2 separate regions of the Homo sapiens genome follow, and region 1 is linked to region 2. The links come from fine-mapping of genetic effects on gene expression. A gene starts in region 2. The other region holds a variant in brackets. All regions are shown on one strand. Distances are from middle to middle. Region 1 overlaps DYRK4 (dual specificity tyrosine phosphorylation regulated kinase 4). Region 2 holds the start of DYRK4 (dual specificity tyrosine phosphorylation regulated kinase 4).

Region 1 (2,918 bases), 43 kb before region 2:
TTTTAATATTTTATTATTAGTTTCGATCATGAAATGAAATTATCTATGTTTAGTCATTCTCAAGGCTATATGTGTTTCTCTGTAACTTTGAGACAATCTGGAAAATAGAAATTTGGCAAAGATAGATAGATACAGATACATAGATAGATAGATAGATAGATAGATAGATAGCCAGCCAGCCAGCTAGCTTGGTGTTTGCACACAAAATATCTTTGTTCACTGGGAAAATCCTAAAATGTAAAATTTAAAATTTTTAAAGTTATTTTTCTATTTTGTCTAATTTATTTCCAAAACAAGATGGCTTTCAAGTGAAAGCATAATAGATATAATTAATAATCATATCATGAGTCTTGGTCAAGCCTTGCTATTAGGAGATAGTTTTCCCAGAAAACTGTCATTTCCCATAATGAATGACTAATGCCTGAACAATACACATACTTTGAAGTCAAATAATTTCCAATTCTTTGTTTTCAACATTTTAATCGGGTTGTCAGCTGACAGGCTGGTAAACATAATTTTAGATGACAGATCACCATTTGATTCTTACACAGAACTCAAAAGGAGTCACCGAATTAGACGACATTAATTAGAACAGGCTTCCTCACTGGGTTCACATCTACACCACCAAGCAATTGGAATCACATTGATCCCGAGCCCGGGCATTCTAGCAAGAAGCATTATTCACCTATGGGTATAGGCATTAATTTGGAAAAAAAAAAAAAAAAAAAAAAAAAACCCAGCTCTATTCATTTTTCTAAGAGCTGTATGCCCAATAAGATTTCACATTTTATTTTCAATAATTATCAAAATTTGCACACCAGATATATTTTAATGGTAACTTACCAGAAAGAAATTTTTACACATGAGGCTTACGGTATCAGGAAATTTTTAAAGCTATAATGATTGATAGAAGTTTCTAAACATAAACGTATATTAAATTAGAATAAAATTCCATAGAGGAAGTAGAAAAAAGAGTAGAAACAAAAGGGAAAAAAGAACAAAGTAAAATCATGGCACAACTCTTAAGAACCTGTTCACATACTATCAGATAGATTTTAATGGGTGTCATGTCCGTCTGGTTTTGCATTCTTTTGGATATTTTTGAAAGAGCGGTGTAATTTTATTTTAAAATGTCACTATTTACAATATGATGGAAATGACATCCTCTGCAACTATTTAAATTTATGATAAAACGTTAGATGTCGACTTGACAAGTACAAGGGAGTACACAATTTCAAAACTCCTTTTAGGGAATACTCAACAACAACAACAACAACAAGGTATGCAGGCCATGGTCCTGGGCGAGTCTGGTGCAGCCCCGTGTCTGAGGGCCAAGCCCACGGTCTCCGTGGGAGCCGACCGCCAGCCCTCCGCGTACCTCCATGATGCAGGCCAGCTGCTCCACCTCATTCTCCCCGGGGAACAGGGGGTAGCCCGTGTACAACTCCGCCGTGATGCAGCCCAGGCTCCACATGTCAATGGCCACGTCGTAGGGGTGGCCCAGGATCACTTCTGGGGATCGGTAGAACCGGCTTTGGATGTACGTGTATACTGCGGAGGCAAAGTAAGAGAAACCTCGTGGGACAAACTTCTTACCCTCCAGAACGCTCTCCCCCAGGACA[A/C]CTTCTCAGTTAGACTGCGCCCCCGCTGGCAGTGAAAGGGAAGTGCAGCTGGCCAGCACTTAGAACTCCCATTACACCATCACAGCATCAAATCCGCCAGCAACCTGATTATAAAGGAGGTGTGACTGTCCCTGCTTTATTGATAACGAACTCCAACGTGGGCACTGTCGTAGGAAAGTGAATCTAAGTGAGCCAAGTTTATAACAAACAAACAAAACATAAGACAAATATAAGACTAAGTTTTCAAACTGTCAGATTGATTTGGGGTAGACAGCTTCTGAGTCTTGTGACTTGGCAAGAGAGTTATCAAGTTAGAAAGGGAGCATATCAAGTTAGAAAGGGAGCATGCAAAGTCTGTATTCAATATAGCATGTGCACTTATTGTATAGAAAGAAAATTCTCAACAGGTGAGGATGAACAGACTGAAGTCGAAGAAATGGAACACGGTAGTTATTTCCGCATAACTGGGGTTTCTGGTTACCTGGGGAGGGGCAGGGATTCTGTAACCACTTTTCTGTTGTTTAAATTGGTTATTGTCAGAACATAATTCTGTGATTTAAAACAAAATAGAGATTTAATAAAAATAATGTTTATATCCTGCCTGCTTCCCAAATGTGTTTGTGGTACTTTGCAAAGTACACATGCACAGAGTATTTTAGAACATGGATTTAATGGTATTTACATTATGTTTAGTATGTGCCAGGCACGATTCCAAGTACTTTTATAGATAAGCCCTTTCAACCCTTACATTAATTCTGTGAAGCAAGTAGTATTATTGCCTCCAATTTAAAGAAGAGAAAACTGAGGCATACAGAGGTTAAAATGTCAAGGTTACTCAGCTATAAGTGACAGAGCTGGGATTTGAGAGTAGGCAGTTTAATTCTAGCATCAATATTAGATACTGCCTCACAGTTAAAATAAAGATAAAAAAGATGTCAGAAAATATGCAAAGGGGGAAATGACTGCTAGAAACCAAGGATAAAATAATTACGAATTCAGTTCCGAGCATCTTGGCAGCCAAGATAAATGAAAACTGAAAAGTTACACAGCTTTCAACATCTGAGAAGGGAAAACATACAAGTTCTTTGTGGGAAGCATTACTTTTTAGCTGGAATTTCTTATAGGATTCATACATAAAGACACAAAGGTTTTATGTCCTCAAAAATTGATCTGCCAGAGAGGCCCAGATGGAGGACACAGAGGCATGCTGTTGCCATGGCAGTGTGGTCCTGGCTGCTGCGGAGGCAGGTGCCAGGGTCTCCCTTGCCTCGATGTGAAGAGCTTAGAAAGCGGAGG
Region 2 (2,918 bases):
TTGAGCAAAATTTCCTCCACTGATCCTTGCTATCCTCTGCAGAGTACCAAGGAACAAATCTATCTCTTTTCTACTCAAGAGTTCTTGAATGTTCAAAAGTTGAGTAGAAAAAAGCTTTCTCTCCCTTGCATCTCCTCATCTCCAGGCATTCTGTGAAGTTTTTTCAAACCTCTCTTCATGTGATGGCACACCCAGGCCTGACAGAGAGAGCCTGCCTTGTGGTTGTTCCTATTTTCCAGTTCTTTGTGATCTCAAAGTAGCTACAGTTTCTAGAGTCTGGATTATGTTCTACTCATTGCTAAGTCAGGCAGCACGACCATATTCTTTGATGTGGTCATTGCATTTCTATGAATGCAGCCTCCACCAGCATTTGCTCTTTGGGGAGCCATCACAACACACTCACGATGGGCTTAGAGTCAGCTAAAACCACTAAATCCCAGCACTGGGTCCTCCACACGCTTGAGGACTATGCATTCTAGCCAAGTTGCAGGCAACAATATGTGGAGTTGGAGAGGGCAAAGTCAGGGAAGAGTGGCTGGCATATTGCTAGAGAGTCCCTTCCGATTTACCTCTGCTTTCTCCATAAGGACCAAAACAAACAAGAGAAACAACAGATTTAAGTAACAGAAACAATAAGGTAGAGTGCATGTTTGAAGAATTTCTTCGAACTCCTAGGTTTTACATACCGACCACATGTAGGTGATCAAATCGCTCAAGCAAGACAAAGGACATTTTCATTTGTTGTTTCCACGGTTTGAACTTTTCCACTAAATGGCCTCCTGCTTTTGCCGAGTCTCCACTTAAGCCTGGACAGTGAAGCTTGAATTAATATTGGTGATGCTGTCCGTTGCTTAAGACATGTCAGAGGGGTCACGGTTTTCCTAAGCTTTGAGGGGCTGCTGGACATTTCAAATGCAGCAAATGTCACAGAATAGCCTTTAAAAACCCTCAAATTGTGCATTGTTCATCTCTTTTTTAAGGAAAGATTTGCTAATATTGGGAATTTCCTGAGTGGCAGCTCTGGGTGTGTGATCTACACACACCTTCGCGCGCTTTTGTGTCAGGGGCTGGGCCCTGGTTGAGCACAGAGGTGCCCGGGCATATGGGCTGGGTGGGAACATGAGTAATGCCTGCCAGAGCCTCATCCACGCGAGGCGTGTGGTCGTGGACCCACTTACGACTACCAAGAGGACATGCAGTAAAGAAGAGAAAGAAAGGGAGGAAGAAAGTCTGGCGTCCCAGTGAGGGCTGGAAGCACAGTTCCAGGATAGGTCTGCTGAGTTCCTCAGAACCCCTCGCTCCCTGTCCTGCACTCAGCTGGAGTCGCCGATGCGACAGCATCTTAACATGGAAGTATACTGACGTCGGATTCCGGGGATGCAGCTGCTGCAAAAACTACAACTGTATTTTCTTGTCCGCGCACCACAGCCCGCCTCTCTCTGACCCACATTCCCCGGTCAGCTCTTGCATTCTGCACGCTTTTCATTCTCCCCCCACGACCCCGTCGACCAGAAGCTTCGTCGCCTGCCTCGTACTCGCGCCTGACTGCTCGTGAAGTACGAGCCTCCGCGGCCCTTACTTTGTTCCGGTGCGGATAGGCGGCGGGAGGAGCTGCATGAGGCCGGCGCTGACCGCCCGCCGCTGCGGGAGGCTGTGAGAGCCCGGCAGAGGGCAAGGGACGGCCACGCCCTCCTCCCGTCGCTATAGAAACGGCTCCCGCCCTTTTTATGACTCCAGAGCTGGAAGGGCTTTCTCAGGCTGTGGTCCCAAACCACCTTGCAGAGTAGCAGCCTGAAGAACATACTCCTCGTCCTCCTACTCGCATTCTCTTGCCCCAGTTCTTTAAAGTATAGGGCAAGAATTGAACAAAATCCCAGCATAAAGAACTTAAAGTTGGTTGCCCAGACCGGACACATGAAATTATCCCTACTCTCTCCCCTTCTTCAAGCGAAGCATGTGGTTATCAGAATTACATCACAGAAGTTCTGGCCGGGCGCGGTGGTTTTACACCTGCAATCCCAGCACTTTGGGAGGCCTAGGCAGACCACTTGAGGTCTGGAGTTCGAGACCAAACTGCTCAAAGTAGTGAGACCCCCCCGCCCCTGTCTCTATTTAGACATTTTTTTCTGTAATCCCAGCACTTTGAGAGGCCAAGGCGGGTGGATCACGAGGCCAAGAGATCAAGACCATCCTGGCCAACATGGTGAAACCCCGTCTCTACTAAAAATACAAAAATAAGCGGGGCGTGGTGGTGCGTGCCTGTAGTCCCAGCTACTTGGGAGGCTGAGGCAGGAGAATCGCTGGAACCCGGGAGGCGGAGGTTGCAGTGAGCCGAGATCGCGCCACTGCACTCCAGCCTGGCGACAGAACGAGACTGCATCTCAAAAAAAAAAAAAAAAAAGAAAAAAAGAAAAAGAAAAAGAAAAAAAGTAAGTACATAGCAAAAGTTCTGGGTAAAATCCATATATCAGCTGAACACTTTTTGAGTGCTTACTCTGCACCAGATTGTAGAAAGCATGAAAAGGGAAATTTGTAATTGAGTGGCAGTAGGTTGACCTGGAGGTGCACAGTCTGGTCCAGGCAGAAAAGACATTCAAATGAAGCTTTCTGAAAGAGCTGAGTTGAATCTGAGTCTTCAAGGACAGGCAGTAGTTGTCTACGTAAAGGAGGCAAGTCCTATTCTGAAGGCCAGAGCCATAGAAAAGCTTGGTACCATTGTGCCAGCACCCAGTTTAGTGGGGCAGGGATCAAAGTTGCACGTGGGCAGAGACAAGGTTGAAGCAGCAGGAAAGGGGGAGTCAGACACCAAGTAGGCTATGAACTCGACCAGGGTAAGGTGTGTATGTGCAGACTGCAGAGGGGTGTTCATGCTGACTTTATTTTATAAAACCCTCTGTGGCAATAACAATGGAAGTAGG

Evidence for each region. PIP is the estimated chance that this variant, and not a neighbour inherited with it, causes the effect.
Region 1: its variant is fine-mapped to the expression of DYRK4 in cerebellum (GTEx, PIP above 0.99).

What each region holds. Positions count from the first base shown.
Region 1 is chr12:4,603,547-4,606,464 of GRCh38, reverse strand. It overlaps DYRK4 (dual specificity tyrosine phosphorylation regulated kinase 4), which reads right to left. Exons shown (of 15, transcript NM_001394779.1): 11 at 1,379-1,551. It also overlaps the pseudogene LOC103568124. Among named protein-coding and RNA genes, the nearest start is that of DYRK4, 43 kb to the right of the region's middle. RefSeq lists an enhancer at 1,305-1,644. The variant A/C (reference allele first, on the strand shown) is at 1,623.
Region 2 is chr12:4,560,945-4,563,862 of GRCh38, reverse strand. DYRK4 (dual specificity tyrosine phosphorylation regulated kinase 4) reads right to left here and starts at 1,655. Exons shown (of 15, transcript NM_001394779.1): 1 at 1,580-1,655. The coding sequence starts at 1,617. RefSeq lists a silencer at 1,526-1,820.